Regions from separate parts of the Homo sapiens genome. Here region 1 is linked to region 2. The links come from fine-mapping of genetic effects on gene expression. A gene starts in region 2. The other region holds a variant in brackets. All regions are shown on one strand. Distances are from middle to middle.

Region 1 (15,921 bases), 370 kb before region 2:
AAATGGGACCTGCAAAGATGTTTGAATTTCCAACTTAGCTAAGATGTAGTAGGGATTTTCCTGTTTTTGTTATAAGTTGCTGCCTGACACAGGGTTTTGCCAGCAGACTCATTTTTCAGCCCAGCCCTAAAAGTGCTGAGTCCCACTTTTCATCTTAGCCATTTCCTATAGCAGCCTTCCAGAAAGGGTCTTCCCAACTACAAGGAAACCTTTCTAGTGAGAAGTCCCTAAAGCAGAATAAGCTAGGGTGCTGGACCCCATTCACTGTATTTTATTTAAAATCATGGTGCCAACCACTCTCCTAAGTCAAGGTAGGGTCAACTGTGACTCTCACAACTTGTACCAACTCTAGAGGCAGCTGTGGTCCAACTTCAAGGTGAAATTCCCCATTGGATATAAAAAGTTTGACAGTCCCTGGGGATACTTAAATTCAAAGTTGAGTGGCGAAGCCTCTCACACATGCCATCACTTGAAGCTCAGCTGTTCACATGAGGAAACAGCGTGTGTGCTGTGGTGGGACCAGTTCCAGGCACGGCACCCAGAAGCCTCAGGCTGCTCAGCATCTCTCAGCTACTGCCCCTGCTACCCCGATCTGCTGAAGAAGAGCAGCAGGGCTGAACTGCGAGAAGCAATGGGCCTTGTGCTCATTTATGAACTGATGAGTACAGAAGTTAAGCAATGTTCTTGGTGTCATGGAATAAAACCAGCACTCACATGACGCACTGCAGTAGATGCACAGTCAGCCTCCCATGTAAGAGCATGGGGAGGCAACTGGAGCTTCTTTCTAGCTAAACACGCTGGACACTAAAATATTTTGCAGATGAATTAACAAGCTTATATTATGTCAAAGGCTGAAATAAAAGTAGTCCTACAAAAGATTCCAAACCTACTTAAAATTTACGTCTTATTCTGCAAATTGCATGCCTTAAGTGCGGGAAGGATGTGGCATTTATGCCATCTCAGTGCAAAATAATATGGGCCAAACTGCAAATCAGTACTTAAATGGGAAAAAATCACTTATCAATTGAAAATAGAATCGGTTATAAAGTAGTAGGAAAATAGTTAATGGTAAAGTTGTCTATTAAGTATTTATATGAAGTAATTATACAGTCACTTGAATGGTTCTCCACAGTTATGCTTAAATAAAATGATATTGAACATCAAACGATAAATTATTCTATGTAAGCATAATGCTATGTCTCACAAAATAACACTCACCTAGTCCCATAAATTTAAACTTAACTATAGGTGTTGGTGTCATTTCGAGGAAACAAATTATTTTGAAAAATTGTATCATTCCAGGAAGTACAGCCATGAAGAACTCACCCAAGGTCGTTTTCCATCATTTAATTTAGTTCAGATTCAAAAACGGTCCCACCACATAGTACATGTATATTTATCTCCAAGTTCTTTCGGTCCTCATAGCAGAGTGTCATGATCTTGAAGGTTGCTCTAAGCACTGACAAAATGCCCTCAGTACAGGGGCCGTCTGCAGTTCCTCCTAGACTTCTGTTTGGGAGGCAGAATTCCATTTCTACTGATTAAAAAGAAAGCAGCAGCAGCAGCAGCAGCCCCATTCATTTCTATTCGCACAGTTTAGCTTCTTTTCCTGATGCTGCTTTTGGATTATAATGAAGACATTTGTCCCAGTGCAGAAGTTTTGCCCTGAAAATAAATTAGGCTTTTCTTGGCAGCTAAAATGAGCACTTTACACCAGGTGGGCTCTTTTCACTGTCCTCAGTCACGTAAGGAACTGAACAAAGACAATGTAATGCAGTTTCGAAAGTTTCTCAGTCTCTGCTCACACACTACGGGGTCAAGAGCTGCAGATGCTGGAATCAGCACCAGAGTGAAGCTGAAGAAGTTCCCCCGAGCTCACATCCTACTTACATAAGGGACTTCAGAATCTCCAGACATGGCCTATTTAAAGTGTAATGAATGCATTTTAGAAAAAGCCATTAAAGCACTTTCTGAACTGCGGTTAATTTCCCCACTCCGCCCGCTCCTCTGTCAACTGACATGCAATGCTTTTGGGAGCTGAGGTACAGCATTCAGGTCAAAACCACTTAAGACCAAATGAATCTATACAACTTTTGAAAGCATATCAATATTAACGAATTTGCTTTATAATTTCATTGGAACTATTCCATCTGGAAAACGGTATCTACTCATTAACTTTTATTTTAAAATGCTTTTTCCATGTTTGAATTGCTGATACTTTTGTCTGATTTTCTTAAAGGAAAAAAAAAAACTTTCAAAAGCCTAACTGTGAACCAGTGCTGCCCACTGTGAAAGGGGGAGGCTCTGAGCCCAAGTGAGTGTCAAGAATGCGCAGGTGATTCTGTGTGCCTGCTCTCCTGGGGGAGCCCCCTGGGGGTGTCTTACAAAGAGTCCTGGTCTGGAGAACAGCCGCCTCCCCCTCCTCTCTACTGCCCTCCCCTCACTCCGGCAACCACAGGGTAAGAATGAAAAGGCCATCTCAGTTCAGACTTGCTCTACTCAGCGTCCATCCCACCCTCAGTCCTGATTTCTAAGCATCTTCCCACCATGAGCCTGTTTCTTCTCTCTGAATCTGACGGTCAGGAATGAAAAGGCCGTCTTGGTTCAGGCTTGTCCTACACAGCGTCCACCCCACCCTCAGTCCTCATTTCTAAGCATCTTCCCACCGTGAGCCTGTTTCTTCTCTGTGAATCTGACACTTGATCACCCATAACCCACTACACATTTCTAACCTTTGGCTTCAATTTCTTGGCTCAAAGAAGACCGTGCATCGTCACCGCATCCCCAGCGTGGCGTCCCCAGTGTGGCACCTCTGAGTGGTGGGATCTGTCTGCACACCTGCCCAGGGTTGTGCCATCAGCCTCAGAGAGGGCACAGCCCCGAGGCACTAGCTCGGCACTGTGCTTTGTCCACAGGCTCACCTCAAGAAGACAGGTCAAACAGACGGTGTTGGGTTTTCCAAGACAGGTCAAAGAGACGGTGTTGGGTTTTCCAAAACCTCTTCTTGATGCTGGGTCCCAAGGAGATGAAATTGCTGTAGCAAATTTTAAAAACCCATAAAGCTTTGGGATCCTGCAGAGAAGCACAGGGTTCATCTGAGGACTGCACATCGGGTTTATTTTTCAGCTTTCTTTTGGCAGAAGCGATCCTGGGATCTCCCTTCCGCAGAGGAAGCCAGTAGCTGTTGGCTGCGGAAGAGGTTTTGCTTTGGTTTCTGTCTTCCCATCAACTGTGTTCAGACTCAGAGTCAACTAATTTTTATTCAGTTCTTCGTGTTCCAGATACAGTAATGAATATTCTCTTTTTTTTTCTCTTTTTTTTGAGACAGGGTTTTGCCCTGTCACCTAGGCTGGAGTGCAGTGGCACAATCACAGCTCACTGTAGCCTTGACCTCCTGAACTCAGGCAATCCTTCCACCTCTGAGAGCCTCCTGAGTTAGCTGGGACTACAGGCATGCCACCACGTGTGGCTAACTGTTTTTATTTTTTTGTAGAGATGGGGTTTTGCCAAGTTGCCCAGGCTGGTCTCAAATGCCTGGGGTCAGGCAATTCACTCACATTGGCCTCCCTAAGTGCAGGGATTGTAATTACTGGATATTTTCAAATATATTATCTGCCCCATTCTCAATGTGAGGTGAATATTGTCACCCCCACTTTACAGATAAAGAAACTGAAGAAATAAGAAAACCCTCAATGCCTCTTGTAAGGTTATCTAGCACCAAATTGTAGAATTTAAATCCAAACCCAGGTTTTCTGACCCCAAGTCTTCCGGGCATCAACCGCTCACTCTTCGTCCAGGCTGTGGCTGAGACACAGCTGGTGCTTTGGAGGGTGGTCGGTAACCCTTAGTCACTTGACAATACAGAAAACCCAAGAGCATGTCAGGACCCAGATGAACGGGGAGGGCCTGCTCCCTTCTCACACGGAAGGCCAGTGCGGGTGTCCCCAGCTGACGCCTGCGCACCCCATGGGGATGGGATTGCGTACCGCATCAAGGCCAAGATCTCCAAAACCACAGACACCCACCAGGCCCACACCCCCAGCTTTCCAAGAACCCCTGGAAAGTCCTCCCAAGTGACTGTCACTGGCCACGTCTGACGGAGTGAATGGCTCCCACGGTGCTGTCTGCTGGGATCGTTTCCTGGGCACTGATGTCTATGAGTGATGCTCTCATGCCTTCTAGAAGATTCCAGGCCCATTATGTCCCATCACTGAGCAAAGGACAACAACGTTCCATACACCTGGCACAGTCCCCTGTGTGTGGCAGGGATAAATGACTGACTAGAAGAAGAGCCCAAATGAGATCATCTCAACAAATTCGAAAACTGTCATTTGTGCCTTAAAATGAGTGTGGCTGACCGCTGATGTGAATTCTCATGCCAAAGCACCAGCTGTAACTCTACATAGCCAGTGGTCTCAGCACTGGGGATCCCTGGCAGCACAGACACTTCACAGCTACACCTCCGTCCTCTGAATTGTTTGATTTTACCACTGCCTACAAGAAGGATCCCTAAAGATGCCACCACTGTATTTAGATCATTTAAATTTCTACAGCATCTATGGTGTGGTAGGCACTGTCTTAGGCACTTTACATACACAAACTCAGAATCTTCACAATATTTTTATAAAGTAGTTATTACTACTCCAATTTTCAGATGAAAAGTTATTCCCCGTGGTTAAGAAACATGCCCAGTAAAGGGTTCAATTCAACAAGAAGGCCTAACTATTCTAAATATATATGCATCCAACACAGGAGCACCCAGATTCATAAAGCAGGGCTTAGAGACCTTCAAAGAGAAAAAGACTCCCACACAATAATAGTGGAAGACGTCAACATTCCACTGACAGTGTTAGACAGATCACTGAGAGAGAATTAATGAAGATATTCAGGATCTGAACTCCACATTGGACCAAATGCATATGACAGACCTCTATAGAACACTCTACCCCAAAACAACAGAATGCACATTCTTCTTATTGCCACATGGCACACACTCTAAAACAGACCACATAATTGAACATAATCCTCAGGCAAATGCTAAAGAACTGAAACCATGCCAAATACAATCTTGGACCACAGCACAATAAAAGTAGAAGTTAAGACTCAGAAAATCACTCAAAACCATGAAATTACATGGAAATTACACAACATCCTCCTGAATGACTTTGGGTAAATAATGAAATTAAGGCAGAAATCAAGAAGTTCTTTGAAACTGATAAGAACAAAGAAAGAACATACCAGAATCTCTGGGACACAGCTAAGGCAGTGTTAACAGGAAAATTCGTAGCACTAAATGCCACATCAAAAAGTTGGAAAGATCTCAAATTAACTACCTAACATCACAATTAAAAGAATTGGAGAAGCAAGAACAAATCAACTCCAAAGCTAGCAGAAGACAAGAAATAACCAAAATCAGAGCTGAAGAAAATCAAGACACGAAAAACCATTGAAAAAAATCAATGAATCTAGGAGTTCATTTTTTGAAAAAAAAAATTAGTAAGATAGGCTGCTAGCTGGAATAATAAAGAAGAAAAGAGAGGAGGCCCAAATAAATACAATTAGAAATGACAAAGAGAATGTTACCACTGACCCCACAGAAATAAAAATAACCACCAAAAACTACTATGAACACCTCTATGCACACAATCTAGAAAACCTAGAAGAGATGGATAAATTCCTGGACACTTACACCCTCCCAAGACTGAACCAGGAAGAAGCTGATTCCTTGAGCAGACCAATAACAAGCTCTGAAATTGAATCAGTAATGAATAGTTTATCAACCAAAAAAAAGCCCAGGACAGATGAATTTACAGCTGAACTCTACCAGATGTATAAAGCAGAGCTGGTACTATTTCTACTGAACCTATTAAAAAAAACTGAAAAGGAGGGACTCCTCCCCAACTCATTCTATGAGGCCAGCGTCATCCTAATACCAAAACCTGGCAGAGACACAACAAAAAAAGAAAACTTCAGGCCAATATCCTTGATGAACATCGATGAAAAAAATCCTCAGCAAAATTCTTGCAAACCAAATCCAACAGCATATCAAAAAGCTAATCCACCACAATCAAGTAGGCTTCATCTCCTGGATGCAAGGTTGGTTCAACATACACAAATCAATCAATGTGATT[C/T]ATCACATAAACAGAACTAAAGACAAAAACCATATGATTGTCTCAATAGATGCAGAAAAGGCTTTTAATAAAATCCAATACCTCTTCATGTTAAAAATTCTCAATATACTAGGTATTGAAGGAACATACCTCAAAATATTAAGAGCCATCTATGACATCCCCACAGCCAGCATCATACTGCATAGGTAAAAGCTGGAAGAATTCCCCTTGAAAACTAGCACAAGACAAGGACGCCGACTCTCACTAGTCCCATTCAACATAGTATTGGAAGTTCTGGCCAGGGCAATCAGGCAATAGAAAAAATAAAGGGCATCCAAGCAGAAAGAGAGGAAGTCAAAGTACCCCTGTTTGTAGATGACAAGATTCTATATCTAGAAAACCCCAGTCTTGGCTCAAAAGCTCTCTCAGCTGATAAACAACTTAACCAGAGTTGCAGGATACAAAATCAATGTACAAAAATCACTAGCATTCTTACACACCAAAAACAGCCAAGCTGAGAGCTAAATCAGGAAGGTAATTACATTCACAACTGCCACAAAAAGAATAAAATACCTAGGAATGCAGCTGACAAGGGAGGTTAAAGATCTCTTCAATGAGAATTACCAAATGCTCCTCAAAGAAATCTGAGAATGCACAAATGGAAAAATATTCCAGGCTCATGGATAGAAAGCATCAACTTAATTAAAATGGCCATACTGCCCAAAGCAATTTATAGATTCATTGCTATTCCTATCAAAATACCAATGACACTCTTTACAGAACTAGAAAAAAACTATTGTAAAATTCATATGGAACCAAAAAAAAGCCCAAATATCCAAGGCCATCATAAGCAAAAAGAACAAAGCTGGAGGCATCATATTATCCAACTTTGAATGATACTACAGGGCTACAGTAACAAACAGCATGACAGTGGTACAAAAACAGACACACAGACCAATGGAACCGAATAGACAGCCCAAAAATAAGGTTACACACCTGCAACCATCTGATCTTAGACAAAGCTGACAAAAATAATTAATGGGGAAAAGACTCCCTAGTCAACAAAGGGTGCTGGGATAACCGGCTAGTCATACGTAGAAGATTGAAGCTGGACCCCTTCCTTATGCCATGTACAAAAAGCAACTCTAGATGGATTAAAGACTTAAATGTAAAACCCAAAATTATAAAAACCCTGGGAGACAACCTAGGCAATATCATCCTGAATGAGCAAAGATTTCATGATTCATGCAATTTCTGCAACAAAAGGGGAAATTGACAAATGGGATCCAATTAAACTTAAGAACCTCTGTAGAGCAAAAGAAACTATCATCAGAGCGAACAGACAAACTACTAGAATGGGAGAAAATATTTGCAAACTACGCATCTGACAAAGGTCTCATATCCAGTATCTATAAGGAACTTAAACAAATTTACAAGAGAAAAACAACCCTATTAAAAAGTGGGCAAAGGACGCCCGGGCGCGGTGGCTCACGCCTGCAATCCCAGCACTTTGTAAGGCTGAGGCAGGTGAATCATGAGGTGAGGAGATCGAGACCATCCTGGCTAACATGGTGAAACCATGTCTCTAATAAAAATACAAAAAATTAGCCGGGTGTAGTGGTGGATGCCTGTAGTCCCAGCTAATCGGGAGGCTGAGTCAGGAGTATGGCATGAACCGGGGAGGCGGAGCTTGCAGTGAGCCAAGATCACACCACTGCACTTCAGCCTGGGCAACAGAGCAAAACTCTGTCTCAAAAAAAAAAAAAAAAAAAAATGGGCAAAGGACATGAACACACTTTTTAAAAGAAGACATACATGTGGCCAAGAAGCATATGAAAAAACTTAAATATCATTTATCATTAGAGAAATGCAAAGCAAAACCCCAATGAGATATCATCACACACCAGTCAGAATGGCCATCATTAAAAAGTCAAAAAATAACGGATGCTGGTGAGGTTGTGGAGAAAAAGGAACACTTATACACTGTCGGTGGGAGTGTAAAGTAGTTCAACCCCTGTGGAAAGCAGTGTGTGGTGATTCCTCAAAGAGTTACAAGCAGAACTGCCATTCAACCCAGCAATTCTATTAGCGGGTATATATCCAGAGGAATATAAATCATTCTACCATAAAGACACATGCACGTGAATGCTCACTGCAGCACTATTCACAAAAGCAAAGACATGGAATCAACTTAAATGCCCAGCAATGACAGACTGAATATAGAGAATGTGGTACATCTATACCATGGAATACTATACAGCCATAAAAAGAATAAGACCCATGACCTCTGCAGGAACATGGATGGAGCTGGAGGCCATTATCTTTAGCAAACTAACCCAGGAAGAGAAAAACAAATACTGCATGTTCTCACTTACAAGTGGGATCTAAATAATGAGAACACATGGACACACAGAGGGGAAGAACACACTCTGGGGTCTATCGGAGGGTGGCATATGGGAGCGGGGAGGGGACCATGAAATATAACTATTGAGTAGCGGGCTTAATTAAACCTGGGTGATGAAATAACCTATACAATACATCTCTGTGACATGAGTTAACCTAAGTAAGAAGCCTTCACATGTACCGCGGAACCAAAAATAAAAGTTAAAAAAGAAAAAAAAAAGAAACACGCCCAAGGTCACACAGAAAATGGGGACTGGAACGTGAACCCAGGGAGTCTGGCCTGAAAATCCACAGCCTTCAGCACACACAGTGCTGGGTCTTCCGGGAGCTGAGGGAAGACGATTTCTGCCATCACTCTGGGAGCGCCAACAGGAAACTAGGCAAGTCGGACACTAAGCCACCTCTCTCCATGTTTTCTTTGTATTTAATTTATTTTCTGTAGCTTGGCCATCTTTGCATTTCCAGCCCTGCCATCAGTGATGTTCTGGGCTTGGTAAGGCGGAGGAAGGCCCGGGCAGAAAGCAGCCCCGGAGTCGGGCACTGTGGCGTGCAGGTGGCACACGGGTGTGGAGCATGTGTTCCAGCAAGCACAAGGAGAGGCTGCTCAAACCCACGTGTGACCTTCGGCTGGCAGATGCATCTGACTTACCCAGCCAAGGAACCAACCCTCACACTCCCTGACCCCAAACCCCCAAAAGCACCATCCACAGGGAAGGGCCCCACAGACAGGGGTAGCTGAGCCCTGCACCAGGCACAGAGGGTGTGTGGGGTCCCGGGGGTCAGGGCTGTGCAGGGTGAATATAGAAAGCTGTATGTGAGAGAGAGGGTCTGTAAAAACAGTGCCACTGCAGGGCTGCGGGACACTCAATGTCTCTCAAAAAAAAAAAAAAAAAAGGCTATAAATCTTCCCTGAAAATGGAAAGCAGTTACTTGCAGATGTTTGGGTTTCTCATTGTTTTCCCCTAATTTCAGGGACAGTATGGCACTGCTGGATCTCTCACATGCCAGATGCAGACACACTGAAGACCCATGCACACTTCACAGGCACGTGCACACCTCACCCACCCTATGCACACCTCACAGACCCAGCACACTTCACAGGCACGTGCACACATCACAGACCGAGCACATGTCACAGACCCATGCACACCCCACAGACCCAGCACGTGTCACAGACCCATGCACACCTCTCAGACCCATGCACACCTCACAGATCCAGCATACTCCATAAGCACATGCACACATCACAGACCCAGACCCAGCACATGTCACAGACCCGTGCACACCTCACAGACCCAGCACATGTCACAGACCCGTGCACACCTCACAGATCCAGCACATGTCACAGACCCGTGCACACCTCACAGATCCAGCACACGTCACAGACCCATGCACACCTCACAGATCCAGCACATGTCACAGACCCATGCACACCTCACAGACCCGTGCACACCTCACAGATACAGTACACATCACAGGCACGTGCACACCTCACAGACCCATGCACACCTCACAGACCCGTGCACACCTCACAGACCTGTGCACACATCACAGACCCAGCACACTTCATAGGCACGTGCACACCTCACAGACCCAGCACATGTCACAGACCCATGCACACCTCACAGACCCGTACACACCTCACAGACCCAGCACGTCACAGACCTATGCACACCTCACAGATCCAGCACACTTCATAGGCACGTGCACACCTCACAGACCCATGCACACCTCACAGACCCGTGCACACCTCACAGACCTGTGCACACATCACAGACCCAGCACACTTCATAGGCACGTGCACACCTCACAGACCCGTGCACACCTCACAGACCCAGCACATGTCACAGACCCATGCACACCTCACAGACCCGTACACACCTCACAGACCCAGCACGTCACAGACCTATGCACACCTCACAGATCCAGCACACTTCATAGGCACGTGCACACCTCACAGACCCATGCACACCTCACAGACCCGTGCACACCTCACAGACCTGTGCACACATCACAGACCCAGCACACTTCATAGGCACGTGCACACCTCACAGACCCGTGCACACCTCACAGACCCAGCACATGTCACAGACCCATGCACACCTCACAGACCCGTACACACCTCACAGACCCAGCACGTCACAGACCTATGCACACCTCACAGATCCAGCACACTTCATAGGCACGTGCACACCTCACAGACCCATGCACACCTCACAGACCCGTGCACACCTCACAGATCCAGCACACTTCATAGGCACGTGCACACCTCACAGACCCATGCACACCTCACAGACCCGTGCACACCTCACAGATCCAGCACACTTCATAGGCACGTGCACACCTCACAGACCCATGCACACCTCACAGACCCGTGCACACCTCACAGATCCAGCACACTTCATAGGCACGTGCACACCTCACAGACCCATGCACACCTCACAGACCCGTGCACACCTCACAGATCCAGCACACCTCATAGGCACGTGCACACCTCACAGACCCGTGCACACCTCACAGACCCGTGCACACCTCACAGACCCAGCACACTTCATAGGCACATGCACACCTCATAGACACATTCACACCTCACAGACCCAGCACACTTCATAGGCATGTGCACACCTCACAGACCCGTACACACCTCACAGACCCAGCACGTCACAGACCTATGCACACCTCACAGATCCAGCACACTTCATAGGCACGTGCACACCTCACAGACCCATGCACATCTCACAGACCCGTGCACACCTCACAGACCCAGCACACTTCATAGGCACATGCACACCTCATAGACACATTCACACCTCACAGACCCAGCACACTTCATAGGCACGTGCACACCTCACAGACCCAGCACACTTCATAGGCACGTGCACACATTATAGGCACGTGCACACCTCACAGACCCATGCACACCTCACAGACCCGTGCACACCTCACAGACCCAGCACACTTCATAGGCACGTGCACACATCATAGGCACGTGCACACCTCACAGACCCATGCACATCTCACAGACCCGTGCACACCTCACAGACCCAGCACACTTCATAGGCACATGCACACCTCATAGACACATTCACACCTCACAGACCCAGCACACGTCACAGGCACGTGCACACTTCACAGACCCAGCGCACATCACAGGCACGTGCACTCACTCACATCTCACAGCATCATCTTACATGACGGCTTCAATCACAGGCCGCCCTGCAACGTCAAACAAGCATGAAGGCTGCTCCCAGGGTTTCGTTTGTTCTATTAATGCTGAAAGTGGTTAACTTTCAGAAATTGACTGCACTGTCTTCTTTTCATTTCCCCATAGATTGGGGAAACATTCAGCACATACTGAGTTTGGAAACCATTCTCCAGAAAGCCTCCAAATGCATCTGGACAGGAAGGACAGTGACAGCCAATTCATTTCCCATCAACCTTCCTATCCTTTCTTCTTACCTAAGATCTCCACTTCTGCGCAGCGTCCAGTCCATCCTTTCACATGGTTGGAAAAACAAGCTGAAATTAGGACCATTTTTTCAAAAAAGCAACAATAAAAAGAAAACACGCAAGTTGGTTTTCTGCCCCTCTGGAAACTCAGGCTCAACTACGACTATTCTCTATTTGCTTCAGGCGCTTCAGGAAGGAAAGCTGAGTCCACAACCCAGGGTTACGTTCTGTGCACATCCTGGTCTGTCTGCCATCTCGTGAGCTCCCTCTCGTGCTCCCCGAGCTATAGACATTTGTCAGCTTAGGGTGGTTCGGTGTCAGGAAGGCTCCTGCCAAATGCAACATGGGTGTGGAAACACAGCATAGGATGGGCCGTAACTCACAGAGGGGGATGGAGAACAGAGTCCCTGGCATAATAAATGTGACGAATGGCAAATACTATGTGTGCTTTACAAAAACAGCTCTGCTGGGACAGAGCAGGGAAGAGCAGGGGAAATAAAGCCTCAGGAAGCCCTTCCAGGCACACGTCACACAGAAAGCCCATTCTCCTAGGATTCTCGATAGTCAGCTGCCTCCGTGTTTCCACCCTGGAATTCCGCTGGAAAATAACAGCACACGAGCTTCCCACGCGAGGGGCCCTGGCTCTCCCTGTGAAGAGCTGTGGCTTTTTCTCAGGCCAAATGAGACCCACACAGGACAAGGATCTACCTGGTGCACAGACGCTTCCTTTGGACGCCTCTGGAAGCCTTCGCTGACCTCTGTGTGAGTGGATCTGAGGCCTAGGCAGGCCCGGGTGCGGGGGCTCAGCAACAGCAAGGGGTCTGTGCCAGCCCAGCCTCCCAGCCCTGGAGTGGTGATGAGTATCTAGAAAGCACTCAGTCACCCTCACCTCCAGCCTCTCTGTGAGCTATTGTCTCCATTTTACAGATGAGAAAACCAAGTCTTGGAGCAAAGTCACAGAACCAGTGCACTGCAAAGCCTCTGCTCTCTCCACTTTGTGGTGCTTTAAGTACCCCCACTGATTTTTATTTTGATGCGTGTGTGATACCGCCCGCAGGTGAGCAACTCACACAAAAGTCACATTTTGTTAGAATGGGAAATGCATTGTCAGTACACTCACTGCTGCCTGCTAGATGCTGTATACAGGTGCGGTTTAATAGACTCTCTCACTCTGCTTATCTGGCAAGACTCTTCCCAGAAGAAAATACGTCTGAGATGTTGAAGCAATCCTGCTCCTAGAACCCTTAGAGTCTTATCCTCTACAGAGTCCAAATGGTTCTATTCTCATTTGATAATTTGCTTTTGAACACAGTTCATCACAGGTGTCACTCACAAGTAAGTGACAAGCACCTCACCCTCCTAGAATGGCTCCCTTCAATAGAAAACCCTCCTAGAATGGCTCCCTTCAATAGAAAACCCTCCTAGAATGGCTCTCTTCAATAGAAAACCCTCCTAGAATGGCCTCCTTCAGTAGAAAACCCTCCTAGAATGGCTCCCTTCAATAGAAAACCATCCTAGAATGGCTCCCTTCAATAGAAAACCCTCCTAGAATGGCTTCCTTCAGCAGAAAACCCTCCTAGAATGGCCCCCTTCAGTAGAAAACCCTCCTAGAATGGCTCCCTTCAATAGAAAACCCTCCTAGAATGGCCTCCTTCAGTAGAAAACCGTCCTAGAATGGCTCCCTTCAATAGAAAACCCTCCTTGAATGGCCTCCTTCAGTAGAAAACCGTCCTAGAGTGGCTCCCTTCAATAGAAAACCCTCCTAGAATGGCTCCCCTCAATAGAAAACCCTCCTAGAATGGCTCCCCTCAATAGAAAACCCTACTGGAATGGCTCCCCCTCAATAGAAAACCCTTCTAGAATGGCCTCCTTCAGTAGAAAACCCTCCTAGAATGCCCTCCTTCAATAGAAAACCCTCCTAGAATGGTTCCCTTCAATACAAAATCCTCCTAGAATGGCTCCCTTCAGTAGAAAACCTCCTAGAATGGCCTCCTTCAATAGAAAACCCTCCTAGAATGGCTCCCCTCAATAGAAAACCCTCCTGGAATGGCTCCCTTCAATACAAAACCCTCCTAGAATGGCTCCCCTCAATAGAAAACCCTCCTGGAATGGCTCCCTTCAATACAAAATCCTCCTAGAATGGCTCCCTTCAGTAGAAAACCTCCTAGAATGGCCTCCTTCAATAGAAAACCCTCCTAGAATGGTTCCCTTCAATAGAAAACACTCCTAGAATGGCCTCCTTCAATAGAAAACCCTCCTAGAATGGCCCCCCTTCAATAGAAAACCCTCCTAGAATGGTCCCCCTCAGTAGAAAACCCTCCTAGAATGGCCCCCTTCAGTAGAAAACCCTCCTAGAATGGCTCCTCTCAGTAGAAAACCCTCCTAGAATGACCCCCTTCAGTAGAAAACCCTCCTAGAATGGCCCCCTTAAGTAGAAAACCCTCTTAGAACGGCCCCCTTCAGTAGAAAACCATCCTAGAATGGCCCCCTTCAGTAGAAAACCCTCCTAGAATGGCTCCCTTCAGTAAAAAAAAAAAAAACCCTAGAATGGCTCCCTTCAATAGAAAACCCTCCTAGAATGGCTCCCTTCAGTAGATAGTGCACCGGCAGGAAGCTCCTACCTTGTCACTCAGGCACAGACCCCCGCTCAGCATGGCTACCCCCTCCCTGCATCTCCCACCATCAGAGAAACACGGACCAGAACCATGTTAGGGTGACTGTTCTCATCAAAGGACAAAAGTCACAGGTGCTGGTGAGAATGCGGGGAACCTGTTCCCAGCACTATCTCCTCCTTCAGGCAGAACAAGGTTAATCCCCACAACATGAGACCCCTACAGTTCCACAGCCCTAACTAATCACAACTGTGGTAGAGTCTTCACTTTCAGAATACTTTTCATTTTCAGGCACCACGGTTGTAATTTTTAAGAACTTTTTCTCTGTAGAATGGATCACATATGAAAAGGTGGCGTTAAGAAGGTAAATCAATGACACATCATCACTCCGAAATCTCAGGATAAAGTATGAGCCTGTACACTGGGATTCGGGGCACCCGTGGGCCTCCTTCAACACATCCTCATGTCATGAGACCGCACCTTTCCGGCTTCCTGCCTGGTTCTCCCAGGTGGACCATCAGGTGTGGCACCTGCACGGCTGGCCGCTGCCGACCACTGCTCCTCCTCTGCTCCAGGGCGTCTGGCGAGTCGAGGTAGGCGAGCACGAGATGGCAGAGATTTTCTCCTCTGCTAAGAAGGAAGCTGCCGGTGCTCTTCAGAGGCCCTGCAGATGGAGGAAGCACACTCCACTTCCTGCTCTCTGGTGAGGGATGCAACCTAATTAAGGGTAATTAACCCAACAGCAGGTGCGAGTGGTCCCGGGGCTGCCTCGCTGACAGGCCTCGGGCACAGGAGCAAACTGGGGAAGGAGGTGGCAGCCCTGGGCCCCGGGACCCCAACCCCTCAGTGCAGCCCACCAGCCCAGGGAGCGACAGCTTCTTCCTCTGCCAAGCGGGGTTGCAGGCGGCGATTTCCTGGAGCAGCCCAAGGATTAAATGAGACAGAGTCAGCAAACGCCTCGGCCAGGCTAGAAACCATTCGGGCCTCTGTTATTGATCGTGTTCAGGATCAATTAAGTCAAGAGTTCAAGTCCCTCTGAAGATGCTCGTGGTTTTACACGCCCACCCCTAAGGCATCTGCTCTGGCCCACACGTGCCGTGACTTCTTGTCACCAAAGGGATTTCCGTAACATGACTGTGCTGGTCCTGTGGCTGGAACCCTCTCCCAGGCTCTCTTTACATGGCTGGCATCAACCCTCCCTCCACTATTTGGTGATGTAACATGGCTGTGCTGATCCTGCGGCTGGAACCCACTCCTGAGCTCTTTTTACTGGGCTGGCGTCAACCCTCCCTCCACTATCCAGTGCACGCCCCTCTCCAGCCACCTTGTCTGAGGCTCCACCGTGG
Region 2 (14,840 bases):
CGCAGACCCGCCCATCCCACCGCAGACCCGCTCATCCCACCGCAGAGCCCCCCATCCCACCGCAGACCCGCCCATCCCACCGCAGACCCGCCCATCCCACCGCAGACCCGCCCATCCCACCGCAGAGCTCCCCATCCCACCGCAGACCCGCCCATCCCACCGCAGAGCCCCCCATCCCACCGCAGACCCGCCCATCCCACCGCAGACCCGCCCATCCCACCGCAGACCCGCCCATCCCACCGCAGAGCCCCCCATCCCACCGCAGGCCCGCCCATCCCACCACAGAGCCCCCCATCCCACCGCAGGCCCGCCCATCCCACCGCAGAGCCCCCCATCCCACCGCAGACCCGCCCATCCCACCGCAGACCCGCCCATCCCACCGCAGACCCGCCCATCCCACCACAGAGCCCCCCATCCCACCGCAGGCCCGCCCATCCCACCACAGAGCCCCCCATCCCACCGCAGAGCCCCCCATCCCACCGCAGAGACCCCCATCCCACCGCAGAGCCCCCCCATCCCACCGCAGACACGTTCATTCCACCACAGACCCGCCCATCCCACCATGGAGCACACTCATCCCACCACAAAGGCCCCCACCCTGCCCCATCCTGGAGCCCCCGCACCCAATCCTGCCACACAGCCTGCCCGTCCCGTCATGGAGCCCCTCATACTGCTGCAGAGCCCCCCACCCCCGCCCTGCGCCCCGTCCTACTTCAAAGGTCACCCTCCAGCCGCCTGTGTCCTCCGCGTTCCCCTCGGCTGGAACGTGGCCTGTCCCAGCCTCTCCGCCTTGCTTTTCATCAGCCAGAGCTTGTTTCTGGAACTTGGGACCAAAGATGCCTAAGCGAGGCCCGGCGGAGAAGCCCATCGCGTGACTGGCGCGGAGCATGGTAAATGGTGCATTTGTCACTACGGCTCGATGGTTTTCAGAGGAGGTTTCTCCTTCCCTGTCTGCTTTATGATATCTTGCAGTCTTTTTACTGAATGAAAACGTAAAGAAGTCCCGTAAGACTCAGAAGTATGACGCGTTGTGGGTAGTACACAAACTCAGAAGAGCAGTCAGAGGCGGGGCAGTGCCCGGCAGCCCCTCACACTCTAGAGCCTCCTGGTCTCTAGGACAGGCCGGCTTTCCAGTGTCGCTCTCCCCAGCCCCCCGAGAACCAGGACAGCTCAGGCCAGGAGGGCGAGTAAAACCACCCCAGGCCCAGGGCAAGGGGCCCATTTCCCTTCCTAGCCACTGGCTCGGACATGGTGAGATGTGAGGGGAGGTCTTCCCGAGAACTCACAGTAAGGTTTCCTTACTGCAAAGGTGTCCCCATCACGCCTGCAGGGCCGACATCACCCTAACAGGGGCACCGTCCTCGCATCATGCCTTCAGGACCAGCGTCCGCAGCCAGCAGGGGCTACACCGGGATGGTGAAGGCCACAGAGCAGACAGAGGGAACCTGGTTGCTGAGGATGCCCGGCTGTGGTGCTTTGTGGTAAGAACGCACAAATCCTCAGTTTCTGTTTTGTGTGGGACTTTCTATTATATGCAGCCAAAAGTATGCTGATACAGCAAAAAAACAAAAACAGAAAATCAAAACCACTGTCCACCTCAGCACCTGCCAGTGTGCAGCTGGCATTCTGATCCACATTCATTCAGCAGATGAGGGGCTCATGCCCAGCAAGGTGTCAGGTGCAGGGACACTGCCATGACCACAGTGGACGGCCCTCTATCCCACAGATCTTCTCTCCCAGCCCGTGGCACTGGATGGTGGAGGCTGCGCCCCCAGCTCTGGAGCCCCCCTGCCGACGTGGCCTGTGGCTCTGTGTGACCCCACACGGGATCCAATGCGCCATCTGACCCCTCTTCCCCAGTTTCCTCATCCGCAGCCTGCAGACAATGCCAGCACTGACCTCACAGGGCTGGCATGAGAATTCTATGAGTTAATATGAGTAACTCGCCCAGCAGTGCCCAGCACATAGGAAACGTTCAACAGATGCCAGATATGATCAGAAAACATCGAAAATAAATAAGTCGCATGGGGTGTGAGAAGGCAAGGGAGCTGGGAGCACTGGAGGGATGGCACCCACTTTGGCCTGGTCTCTCTGAGAAGCTCCACATGTGGGAAGGCTTGGAGGAAAGCAGCGACGCACCCCCGGCCTTCCTGCAGGGCACACGGGCCCCGACCAGGACCATCACTGAAGTTCAGGCACCAGTAAGGAGGCCTGGGTGACGGGGGCAGAGTGTTGAGGGGATGACCTTGGCTGGCCTGAGCAGGCCGTGAGGGGTGGTGCGGACCCCCATAGGCAGGTGGCCTGGCGCTGAGTGAGATGGAGATGTGATCAGGCTTCTAGGGTTCCTCTTTCTGGAGTCGGTATCCTTCCAGTCTGGTCTTTATGCTCCAAACTCAGTAGCTTTAGGGAAATGGGATGAAAGTATTCATACTGTCTTATAGTCCGTTCTCTTTACTTAATATGGTATGAACACCTTCTTATAGAATTAGGTACTTAACTTTCATGTTTTTGTGGATGTGTATTTTTTATAACATTGCTGTACCACCATGAATTTACCCAATCCTGTTACTGCTGTTTTCCAATATTATACTATGAAACAAAACTGGAGGGAACATCCACTTAGCTAACTTATTGTAAATTCATGATTATTTCCTTAGGAAAAGTTTCCAGAAGTGAAATTGCTGGGATAGTTACATGTAAAGAAGAGTTTTTTTAAAATTGAGTGCTGCGACTCTTGAGAAAATATCATTAGAGAAGCAAGTAGCTGGATAAATTGAAGACTGAGAAATACTGTTTGGTTGCTTTAAAGAACTACGGAACTCAAGTTTCACCAACAAAAATAAAACTTTGAATCTAATTATAGTGACAACCTAGAACATTTTGTTTCAGACCCAGTAGTGCTTCATTCTGAAATGGCCACAACAAAAGGTTGAAACTACAATTCTCAATTGTTTATGCAAATTTCTAAATTATATATAGTATAGCCAGAAAACAGATGTTCGGAAATTTGCTCAGAATGTCAAAATATTACAAAGAATGTTACAAAATGGAAATTATTTTTAAAGAGCTAAAGGTTTCATATTAAAGACCAAGAAAAAAGGTAAAGAACCTGCCGCTGTGCTTGTCTCCAGCACCCACAACTCGGAAGCAGCGGGAGAAGGGACGGTGGCGTAACGAGGCATTCACGGTGTGTATTTACGAGTTCATGCAACTGTTTATCCAGTGACATGGCCTAAAACCCTGCGGCAGGTGTGGGGATGGCCTGGGCTACCCCTTCCCGCCATCTCTGCTGCACTGAGGACAGCATGCGGACAGACTGGGGGATGGGGAAGCCGGGACCCAGTCCAAGCGAGGAATTCGGAGGCTGGGAGCATGACCTCACTCAGGCATCGGGGCCGGGGAAGCAGCATTCCAACTAGGTTTGAGAGAACAGACATGAGGAAAGGACGGAATGAAAAGCACCGTCCAGTGTGGGTGAAGCCAGAGTGTTGCTGGGGCACAGCCCAGGCAGGGAACAGGGAGTGACCGTGGGAAGCAGACAGCCAGCACCCCGGGAGGGCGACGTGGCCGGAGAAGAGGCAGGGAGTGACCGTGGGGAGCAGACAGCCAGCACCCCGGGAGGGCGACGTGGCCGGAGAAGAGGCAGGGAGTGACCGTGGGGAGCAGACGGCCAGCACCCCGGGAGGGCGACGTGGCCGGAGAAGAGGCAGGGAGTGACCGTGGGGAGCAGACGGCCAGCACCCCGGGAGGGCGACGTGGCCGGAGAAGAGGGAGGGACGCAGGTTGGGCTGGGGAATCTGTACCTCGAGGAGGCGTCAGCCCCTCTTCTGCACCTTCACCCATTCAGATCATTAGATGCGACCCAGGGCCAGGGTTCAAGGGTGATCAAGACCCTTCCTCACAGAGTGGCTATTCCAATACATCAAAGACAAGGAAAGTGGGAATTACAAGGTGGTGAGAGGTGTCACCCTAACAGTCAGAGCACAGAGAAACCTTCCCAACCCAATCTCGTGGGTCGGGGGTATATGTGGAGAGGAGACGCTGCCTCTAAGCTTGCTGAGCGAACGAGCACTTCTTCCCAACGCACAAGATGAGAGACAGAAGAGGGAAGCGGCGCTGGGTCTGAGAGAACCACGATGATGGCTCCATCCATAGACTGCCACGGCCACCAGAACAAGTCACTTCCTTCAGCTAAAACAGGTGTCTGGGCATTTAGATGCAAAGACTCAGAGGAAACGTGAAGGCACGTGAAACTTGAGAAACTGCTGTTGTCTGCAGGACACACGACGTGAATCCACGTCTTCAGCCCTAAACCACAGTAGCTTAGTGAGTGATCCAGACATGAAGACCCGGCCACGGAAATCACATGCAAATACCAGCAAAAGGCATCGCGCAGTGGCCCATGCCCACAATCGCAACATTTTGGGAGGCTGGGGTAGGCTGATGGCTAGAGCCCAGGAGTCAGAGTCTAGTCTGGACAACATGGTGAAACCCCATCTCTACTAAAAATACAAAAAATTAGCTGGGTGTGGTGGTGCACGCCTGTAGTCCCAGCTACTCGGGAGGCTGAGGTGGGAAGATCGCTTGAGCCCAGGAGGTCAAGGCTGCAGTGAGCTGAGATTATGCCACTCACTCCAACCTGAAACACAGGAGTGAGACCGTCTCTAAATAAGTAAGTAAATAAATACCAAGAAGAGGTCATCAGTGCTGAGGGTAGGCTGTGCATGTGAGTTTTGCTTTTGGTTTATTTCAAAGAAACCAAATCAAGACAAAATCATTAAAAAATACTTCTGTATTTTTAACTGTTATATATTACACAACCCCAGCCCCTGAATATAAGATCTACCCTCAGAACATCTCTTACAAGTTAGTGCCAGAGAAAATTTATCTTCACCAAAAAATGAGTATGCAACGTCTACCCTGAAAGCATGATCCTCAGGTTGAACATGGCTTTGTAGTTTTGGGTTTTGTTGACTTGACTCCCTGGAAGCTCAGTGTCAAACGTGATGCCCAGAGAATTACATCCATCCTCATGGTTATCACATGTGTTTCTTCCGATTTTCTATTTCTATTTTCTAATTAGCATTTTTTCCCTTGTCCTTCTGTGGTTAAGTTGGGTCCAAAACTTTTTGGAAAGTGGCAAGAGATATACAAAAAAGTAAAACAAGACCAGAAATAATAAATAAAACAGTTTTGAGAGAAATCAAAGAGTTGCTTGATAACTTCCATTGTGGACTGACTCAAAGTAGGCCTCAATTGTATTTTTTCATGATAAAAATAGTCAAGACTAATCCAGCATTTCCTACGTGCACCATTCTTATCACTTTACAGTCATGAATTCATTTAATCCTCCTTAACCCTATCAAGTTAATATTGCATTGGCCCCACTCTTAGTGATGAGAAAACTGAAATACGGTGAGGTCAAATAAAGAGCCAAATGCAGCTGGGAAAAGTGACTCACTCCTGTAATCCCAGCACTTGAGGAGGCCAGGGCAGGAGGATTCCTTAAGGACAGGAATCTAAGGCCAGCCTGGGCAACACTGCAAGACCTCCGTCTCTACCAAAAAAAAAAAAAGTAAAAATTAGTTGGGTGCGGTGACATACACCAACTACTAGACAGGCTGAGGTGGGAGGATCACTCGTGCCCAGGAGGTCAAGACTGCAGTTAGCTATGATCATGCCAGTGCACTCCCGCCTGGGTGACAGAGGGAGACCCTGTCTCTAAAAAGCCACTTGCAATGCTGTGCAAAAGTCACAGGACAAACATTCGTTACACACAAAAGGATGTTTTTCAATACCGCCTAACTTAAAATACATACTCTATGGACCCTTGAGATCATTCCCATTTTTCTTCTTTTGTACAGAGTATGAAACATTTTAAAGACAACGATCAGTCAGATTCACAGGTTACTTTAAAAATTTTTAACACAAGTTTACAGATGGGCTATTTCCAAATGTTTATTCATTGTTTAAAATGGTTGATTTAAATTTTTCTCTTTTTTTCCTGCCGATACACACGATGTACCATATAAGAAACAGTACCCGAAGATGAATAAGCCTTTCCCTGCAACAAGAGGTTTAATGTGGAAATGTCTGAAGAAACTAAAAGCCCATACATCCCATTTGCTTGTCAGGGACAGAAAACTCAGTTCAAAGAAACAATCTCCTGGTTTATGTAACTGAAAGTCACGGGGTAATGATGGTTCAGGCATAACTTAGTTCAGAGCTTCCAACAGCATCCTCAGGACCAAGCTCTCTGCATAACAGCCGCCCTTCTCCTCCACAGACAGATGAGGAAGGTGTCATTTCCAGACAGGCCATCCCTGCAAGGCTGTGCACTGATGCCACAACTGCAGGCCTTACACCTTTCCCGCTGTTTTTCCTAAAGCTTTCCTCTCCTTGAAAGTTCCCGCTCTTCACTCATCCAATTGCTCTTGAGAGGGAGTTAGGGCTCCGGCCAGTCAGGAGCCACCTCTGACGGGAAGTAGGGTCCGCCAAGCCAACCCCATGAGGTGGCAGGTGTTCCCTAAGGGGAGCTGGCTGCTGCCTGGAAAGGGAAGCGTACACTGAACTGCAAATACACTGGAGTCTGCAGTAACGGGTCTAGAAAGCTCAACTCCTGAAGGCCCGCCAATAAATACAGACAGGACACTTCCAGAACTAAGGCAACTGACATCCCACATGAAGACACTGCCATCAAGTCAGGAGAGGTGCACCTGCAGCGGACACCCATCACCGGGATGTCAGAACACCCAGGCCCCTCTCCTGGAGCTAAAGTTAAGGGACTGCATGTCAAGGCCCATGACCTGAGGACTGGGAGAAGATTTTCATAGGCAGATGAAGTCAGTGCACAGAAGAATGACATGAAAAAAGAAAAACAGAGCTTTACAAATGAGCTCCTACTGCCTTTGCTGAGGAGATTAATTTGTTACTGCTGTTAAGCCTTGGAAGGGAAAGGTGGCTACCAGTAGATGCAAGATTTAAACTAGAGTTTGCACACCCTACGACCCCATGCCTGGTCAATGCCAAAGCCCATCTGCTTAACTTCCCTAGAAATTAAAGTCTTTTGTCATGAGCACACGTGAAATCACTATGCTCAGTTTTTGTACGCACAAGTACCCAGGAAACAACAAAACATATTGAAGAAGTTAGTGGCACTAGAAAGCCTCGTATGATGAAAACTAGTTGGTAAAACTACGGTTGATTAAGAATAATTTTTAACTGCATAGAAAGTGTGCCTACTAACTTCCTGTATGGCAGCCTGTAATTCTTTTATAACCAACATGATGGCAATGCTCTAAATATGACTCCCATCTGGCCAAAATGATGAATCATAGTTATTTTTATTGTATCCAATGAATGACCATGGAGCATCCATCCTGAGGGTCAATAAATAGAATATTTAATCAACTTCATTTTAAAATCTATAATCAAAGTATACATCATTCAACTCCTTGGATAACTGAGGAGTCATGAAGCTTTTCCTCAAATACAGTTATATAATAAAAAAATTATAGCATTTCTTCAATTTCAACATTATGGAAGATGATATCTTCAAAATAAAACAAAACAAAATCCTCTCACCCTTAAAAAGATATTAGAGCACTTTAGTTTCAGAATTAGTTGGGTTCTGGGTACACAGAATCCAATGTAATTTAAATTCCACGAAGCCTATTTTTGCTTTTAATATTTAATTTGGAATTTCTACCAATTTCAAAACTGAAATAAGTAGACACAAATAAGAGAAGCAATAGATTGCCACAGAAGGGCATGTATGTCACTGGGGAGAAATAATGTCATGTGATCTGAATTCTACAAAACTAAAAATCGAATTAACCCATTTAAATCACAAGTAACAAAAGGCATACAAAAAGTTGGTAAATAAATACATGTTTATTTCTGTCTCAAGCTGTACCACTTTGGACAATCATAAGTGCAAAGTTCTTTCGAAGAATAACAAATAGACATTGAATACTATGAAAAGTTGACTTAGAATGCTTATCTGAGAAAACATCTTCGTGCTGAGAAAGCTTTACTTTTAATTACTTCGTTCCTTTGAATTATTTGACGTAGTACTCATTTTGCTTACAACTCTTACCCTTTAACCTGAAATTATAATATACAGATTTGACGCGGTAGATCAACAGAGGAAGCCATTCTGTGCCTCTCCACTGCTTACCCAAGAACACGGGCGATCACCAAGGAGTGACAGTGAAGGGGCAGGAATGGCGCACAGAGGCAGGATGCGTCCCAGGTCATCACTGAGAGCAGATCCCACGCGCCCGAGCTGCCGCGGTGAAGATGCCTCAGGTGACCCGAGACAGAACCGAGGACAGGGCCGGCTCTGTGTCACCTCGGTCCCTCCACGGCCTCCCCGCCCAGATGTGCTTGGACAGAGTATTGCCTACAGCCTGCTCCACATGCTGCCAGATGTAGGGGATAAAATATTCTAATGTGTTCTCTTCCAAGCAATGAAAAAGTCACACCATCCAGAAGGAAATGGTACGCACACTCTACAATTACTATTGGAGCCAAATCTGTGAGTCACCCAGCTGCCGGCACAAGACAATTTGGCTACTGGAAAATCCTGATTAATGACATTTTTTTAAACCCAGAGTAACAACTTGACCTGCCAAGAATTACCATTTTTTCATCATTTCGCCATTTTTGGCCTTGGTTATCTATTACCTTTCTCAGAGAAAAGGAAGTAAAATGAAAATGGTGTAAGGTGCGTTCACCTCAGGCCAAAATGCGCCTTCCAAGGTGCGCTGGGGCCGGGGTTTAGCGCAGCTTCGCGACCCGGGGGAAGGCTCCTTGGAGAGCCTCCTGGACTCCCTCGGGCTACGCCGAGGTACCGGGTTATTTCCCAACTGCAAGGACAATTAATTCACGGGCTGTTGATGAGATTCCTCCTGACAGGGCGGATTGTCGGGCTCCGCCAGGCTCTGGGACCGGGTCTCTGTCCGCCGCGCCCCAGGCCCGACCTCTCCGGGGGGTACCCCCCTTCGCGTCGCCGGAGCTGCCTCCAGCCTCGAGTCCGGGAAGACGGGAGAAGCGGCGGCGCTTTGGAGAATATTTACAGTTCCCAAACCCCCCACAGCCCGGGCTGGCCGAGTTCATCCACACGAAGGATAAATTCACTGCTGATCGCTTTATCTTTAATCGATAGAAGACCGGGGCCGCCGACAAGTCACGAATTTCCAATTCCAGGCCGTGGCCGGGATCGCCATTCACCGGCGGCGGCGGCGGCGGCGTCGCGCAGGGGCTGGAAGGACCCGGGCTCCAAGCGCGCAGGGCCGGGACCGGGGGCCGCGAGTTTCCGACGCGCATCGCAGACCCGCCGCGCACCCTCGCCCCCGCGTCCGCTCTCCACCTGCGAACCTACGCTGTCCGGGGGCTCCGCCTTCTCGCCGGCGCCCACCTCGCCCAGCTATCTCTCCTCCAGGCCCCTCCCCGGGTTCCCAGGTCCAGCCTGCTCCGAAGCCTCGGGCACCGCACACGCCGCGCGCTGAGGGAGGGCCGGGCGGGGAGAGGCGTCCAGTCCAGCCCAGCCCAGCCCAGCCCAGCCCAGCCCCACCTGGGCGCGCAGGCAGAGGAGCCCGCGTCCGCCGCCCCCCAGCCCTCCGCGCAGGGCTGTAATAATTACATCCTCATTATTTCTCCTGCAATCGTTAGCGAAGGAGCCGGAGACAGCAACAGCCGCTGCCGGGGGAGGCTTAGTTACAAAACCCTGCGCTGGGTAGCGCCTCGCTTAGCAACCACCCCTAAAAAAGACCCCGAGCTCCTCGCTCGCACTTGGAGAGCCGGGCGGCGGCCACCCCCTCGCTGCGCGCACCCTCCACTCCGCCTGGTCTCGGCAGCCGCTGCTGCCCGGCACAAGGGCCCCATCCTGGTCGCCCCCGCCCCCGCGAGCCCCCGTGCGCGCAGCCCAGCCCGGCACCCTTCATTCATTCCCAGTCCCCGTCGGCGTTTCCACCCGGGCTTGGGGGGAGGGGGATGCAGTCTGCTGCCCGCCGCCCCCACTCGCTCGCAGCTGCCCCACCGGAGCTAGGCGCGTAGCCCCTGGCGCGCCGGCACCCCCCAGGCTTTGCCCCCTCCACCCCGGGCAGGCAGAGCGGAGAATTTCACACCTCCGCGGCCCCGTGCGCTCCCGCACCCCCGGAGCCCAGGGTCCCGGCACCCCCGAGCGCGGCCAGGGATGCGCGGAGCCCGGCGAGGAGCGCAACGCGCGACCCCCGAGCACAGGCTGTCCCTGGGGTCCCCAGCGCTCCGGCCCCGGCGGGCGGCACGACCCCCGCTCGCCCCCGCCCCCAACCCTGACGCCCTCGGGGCGTCCCCGCGGGTCCGACACACCGCGCCCTCCCCGCCTCGACGGCTCTCGGAGCCCCGCGCCCGGCTCCCGGCAGCCCCCGGCGGCTCGCACCTTCCTCAGCGCGGACATCCTCGGACGCTCCGGGCTCAGCAGGTGCGGGGCGACATGGCGAAGCGGCCCCTCCTCAGACCGACGGCTCCCGGGGCTCGCGGGTTGGGGTCAGTACGTCCGTCCGCGGTCCGTCCGTCCGTTCGCCGCCGCAGGCGCCGCGCGCTCAGACCGCGCTCGAGCCCGGCGCACGGTCGGTCTTCACGGCCGGCGCCTGCGCACTCGGCGCCCAGGGAGGCACCGGCGCACTGGGGGGCGGCCGGCGCGCGGCTGCATCTGGGGAAGGGCCCGGCTTGGGGAGCGCGCGGGCAGCCCGGCTCCAACTGTTGCGCGGGGCGCGCGGGTCACCCGGGGACTGTGCCGGGCTCCCGGCGGGAAAGCAGCGGCCTCCACCGCGGCGCGCGCAGGCGACGCTCACCGCGCCCGAAAGTTAGCGGGGGACCCGGTCACACCCGTCGCCCCCGGGCAGGGTCAGCCTTTCTGGACCGCTGTTAGAGACGCGCCGGCGCGTTTGTGCGCGGGACTCGCGCTCGGGTTCGAGTCGGCTCGGCGCCCAGGGGGGCTCGCGGGGCAGAGGGGACGCGGGGCGAGGGAGGCGCGGGCGCTTGCGAGGGTCTCACTGCGAGGTGCGGCCGCCGCTTGGGTGCTGGAGGCAGAACCTCCCCCGGTTTCCACTGGCGGGCTACGCTGAGGAAGGTGTGCGGCGGCGGCTTCGCGGGGACCCACCGGGGGGCGCCCCGAGAACCTGGGTCCGGACGCAAGGAGCGCCCTCGGAGGGGGCCCGCCGCCTGGGTTTGCTGTGAGTGGCGTATGGACGACAGAGCCGAGGAAAAGGGAAAATCGATCCGGAGAAGTGGTGTTGACAACCACAGCAGCCGGGAAGATCAGCCACCCTGGCCACGTGTGGACGGACCCTCGCCAGGATCATGGGTTTTCCCTTCCGGGATCGGAACGCGGGAGCTAGACGCGCTGGTATGGGGATCCCTGGGCGGTCACCGACCCTGGGCAAGTCTCTCAGCCCCAGTTTAACATAAACGCAGAAATGGATTTCTGCTTTCCACCTGCATGGCTACGGCATTTAAATGAGGTAAAAGATGCGAAAACAAACCGCATAGAAAGACGGATGGGAGTTAGAATGAAATCAGGTCATCCAAAATATTTGGAATGGACAAACCAATCTTTTCCAGAAATTCCAAGATCTTTAAACAAAAAACAGGCTCTGTAAGAATTCCCCGTATAATTGATCACCAAAATATTCATCAGTTGCAGTTTATTTTCAAGGCAGAGTGCTAAACGACGAGGGGGTAGAAAGGTGAATGGGAGAAAGAAGTCCGGCCGCTGTCCATTTCTTCTAAATGTTTCCCGAATCTATCAGTGGTCTCCACTGTCAAAAAAAAAAAAAAAAAAGGTGCATTCAGCGCCCAAACCTCAACTAGGGAGAGATTCCAGGCCAATTTATTTTCATTTCACAATTTACTTTCCCTTTGCTTTCCTCCCCTGCATTTCGTCCCCATCCCTTCACGTTTTTTAAAAATATATATATATATTATTTCATGCAACCGCAACAAGAAAATCACACAAATGTACTGACGGCCTCTCCTGTGTTCTCAGCGTGTGAGCAGCACAGAAAACCACGGTTGCCGCCCCATGAAGCCTTCAGTCTAGAGAGGGATCCGCCCAGAAGTTACCCAAGGAACAGACAATTACAAGTTATAATTCTCTGAAGGAAACATATGGAGTGTTATTGGTGAATGTGAAAAGGGCAACAAATACAGTTTGTGACATCAGAAAAGAACTTTTTGAGGACGTCGTTATTAAATCTCCCCCTGGGTTCTCCCACAAGCAGGTTTTGAGGTGTGGATTTGGGTGCAGGTAGTTCATTTGGGAGATCGATCCCAGGAAACTAGAGAGAGGAAGTAGGGAGAGAGAGGCAGGGCAGGAGAGGACGTCCCAGAGGCTGCGGTGACGCTGGGCTGCTCCTGTGGCCACCGGGGCCCCGTCCTGCTGGGGTGCTCTAACAGGAGCAGCTTGGAGTGCACGTCAGCTTAGGAAGGCTGGACAGCTTTTCAGCTTCTAGGTCCCAGTGACTGAGGGCTGCTCCTCACCCACACACCCCACTCCCCAAGTTGAGCACCTCCCAAAGCTTCAAAGAAAGTCCAGAGGCCAACCAGCAGGGGAGTGCACGGGGACCTGAGAGCACATTGAGGGTGGCATCAGAGGTGGCCTCTGCCATGGCCCTGGGAACAGGATTTAGGGAGATAAGAGCAGGCCTGAAGACCTTGGGAGATAGAAGGACTTGATGCCTTTTTTTTTTTTTTTTTGACGGAGTCTCACTCTGTCACTAGGCTGGAGTGCAGTGGCACTATCTCAGGTCACTGAAACCTCTGACTCCCTGGTTCAAGCGATTCTCCTGCCTCAACCTCCCGAGTAGCTGGATTACAGGTGCACACCACCATGCCCTGCTATTATTATTATTATTATTATTATTATTATTATTATCATTATTATTATTATTATTTGTATTTGTATTTTTAGTAGAGGCGGGGTTTCACCATGTTGGCCAGGATGGTCTCGATCTCCTGACCTCGTGATCCACCCGCCTCGGCCTCGCAAAGTGCTGGGAGTACAGGCGTGAGCCACTGTACCTGGCCTTTTTTCTTTTCTAAGACAGGGTCTCACTCCTGTTGTCCAGGCTTGAGTACAGTGGTGCTGTCACGGCTCACTGCAGCCTCAACTTCCCTGACTCAGGTGATTCTCCCACCTCAGCTTTCTGAGTAGCTGAGACTACAGGTATGTGCCACCATGCCTGGCTAACTTTTTGTATTTTTAGTAGACACAGGGGCTTGTTATGTTGCCCAGACTAATCTCCAACTCCCATGCTCAAGCGATCCTCCTGCCTCCGCCTCCCAAAGTGCTAAGATGACAGGCATGAGCCACCATGCCTGGCCACATTTTCGTTTAACTGAACAGTCAGAATAACTGCAACTGAGGGAGAAAAGGACCACATGATTGTGACGGGAGAAAAACTCAGGGGTCTTTCAGGACATTTTAAGGGCTTTGATTTGTATCCTCTATACAATGAATTATGATGTAGGATTTTGAGCAAGGCAGAGATTTTCTTCATAGACAATCCTGTCATTTGCAGAGAAAACTTCTATTTCTCCCTTCCCAATCTGTATACCTTGTATTTCCTTTTCTTGTCTCATTGCATTGGCCAGGAATTGCAGTGTAACAGTGAGATGCAGTGGCAAGAGGGGGGGGCCTTGCCTTCTTCCTGATCTTAGTGGGAAAGGCTTCTAGTTTCTCACCATTTAGTATGCTGTTAGCTCTAGGGTTTTTGTAGGTGTCCCTTATCAAACTGAAGAAGTTACCCTCTAATCATAGTTGGCTGAGGGTGTTTCGGTTTTAAATCATGAATGGGTGTTGGATTTTGTCAAATGCTTTGTCTGCATCTAATGATGTGATTGTGTGGTTTTTCTTCCCTATCCTGTTGCTGGATGGTCCACCTTCAGTGATTTTTGAATGGCAGTGAGGTTTTAAAATGACCATTTTGGCTGCTATAAGAAGAAATGTCGGTAGGATGGGAGTGAGGAACAAGAGTGGAATTGAGATCATTTTAAAAATGCTCGGAGAAATCCTGGGATTTCAGAGATCAACTTAAAAAAGGCTGGAGAAATCCTAGTGACAAATGATGAAAACACAAACTCAGCAGTGGAAGTAAGACACGTTGCAAGTAGAATGCGCTTGATGTGATTTTTCTGGATGGGTTATTCAGGAAGAGAGGAAGAGGAGAGTCACCAATGACCCCCAAGTTTGGCCCAGCAATTGGATGACACTTCTGGGAGGCCTTAGTGTGTTACATGCTTACTGAGAACTGTGTGTTGGAGCTGGGGACATGGATGCCTTGGGGACTTTGTCAGGAGCAGGTGCAGTGGAGGGGTGGAGAGAAAAGCTGGACGGGGTCACAGAGTCCATGGAAGACGTCAAAGTGGAGACGGGCTTTGTAATCAACTCTTTCCGCCAGTTTGAGTGTGGGAGAGATTGAAGAAACAGGGCTGGAGAAAAATACATTATTTCCTGGGAGGATTTTGTTATGGGGGCGTCCACAGTGGGCTTGAGTGCTGGTGAGAATGATGAAGTGGAGAACAAGTTCAAGATGCAGCCTCATTACAGGGATTATTTCCCCTCCTGCATCACTCATTTTCAACAGTAATTTGATCAGGTCAAATTATCTCTCTCTCTCTCTCTCTCTCTCTCTCTCTCTCTCTCTCTCTCTCTGTCTGTGTGTGTGTGTGTATGTGTTCTGTCTTCAAAAACCCTCCAGTTATTGCCCCATTTGCATGGTCCCGCCAGAGAATGGTGTACAGTCAATGTCTAACTTTTCCTCGAAATTCTATGAATTTCCATCAAGTTTCTGCTT

Direction of the effects. Alleles are on the strand shown, and positions count from the first base shown. SD is a standard deviation of normalised expression in the study named.
With allele T in place of C in region 1, the expression in thyroid of the gene that starts at base 10,621 in region 2 is higher (large effect, 1.5 SD a copy in GTEx).

The links. PIP is the estimated chance that this variant, and not a neighbour inherited with it, causes the effect.
Region 1: its variant is fine-mapped to the expression of DLGAP2 in thyroid (GTEx, PIP above 0.99).

The regions. Positions count from the first base shown.
Region 1 is chr8:1,104,201-1,120,121 of GRCh38, reverse strand. The region is part of intron 2 of DLGAP2 (DLG associated protein 2); the gene reads right to left. LOC124900249 (a long non-coding RNA gene) reads right to left here and starts at 14,514. Exons shown (of 2, transcript XR_007060781.1): 1 at 11,193-14,514; 2 at 1-10,504. RefSeq lists enhancers at 10,991-11,907, 15,184-15,685. The variant C/T (reference allele first, on the strand shown) is at 6,132.
Region 2 is chr8:733,409-748,248 of GRCh38, reverse strand. DLGAP2 (DLG associated protein 2) reads right to left here and starts at 10,621. Exons shown (of 15, transcript NM_001346810.2): 1 at 10,424-10,621. The coding sequence starts at 10,441. It overlaps LOC124902044 (a long non-coding RNA gene), which reads left to right and starts at 11,219. Exons shown (of 2, transcript XR_007061156.1): 1 at 11,219-11,392; 2 at 12,032-12,215. It overlaps LOC401442 (a long non-coding RNA gene), which reads right to left and starts at 9,701. Exons shown (of 1, transcript NR_134292.1): 1 at 7,875-9,701.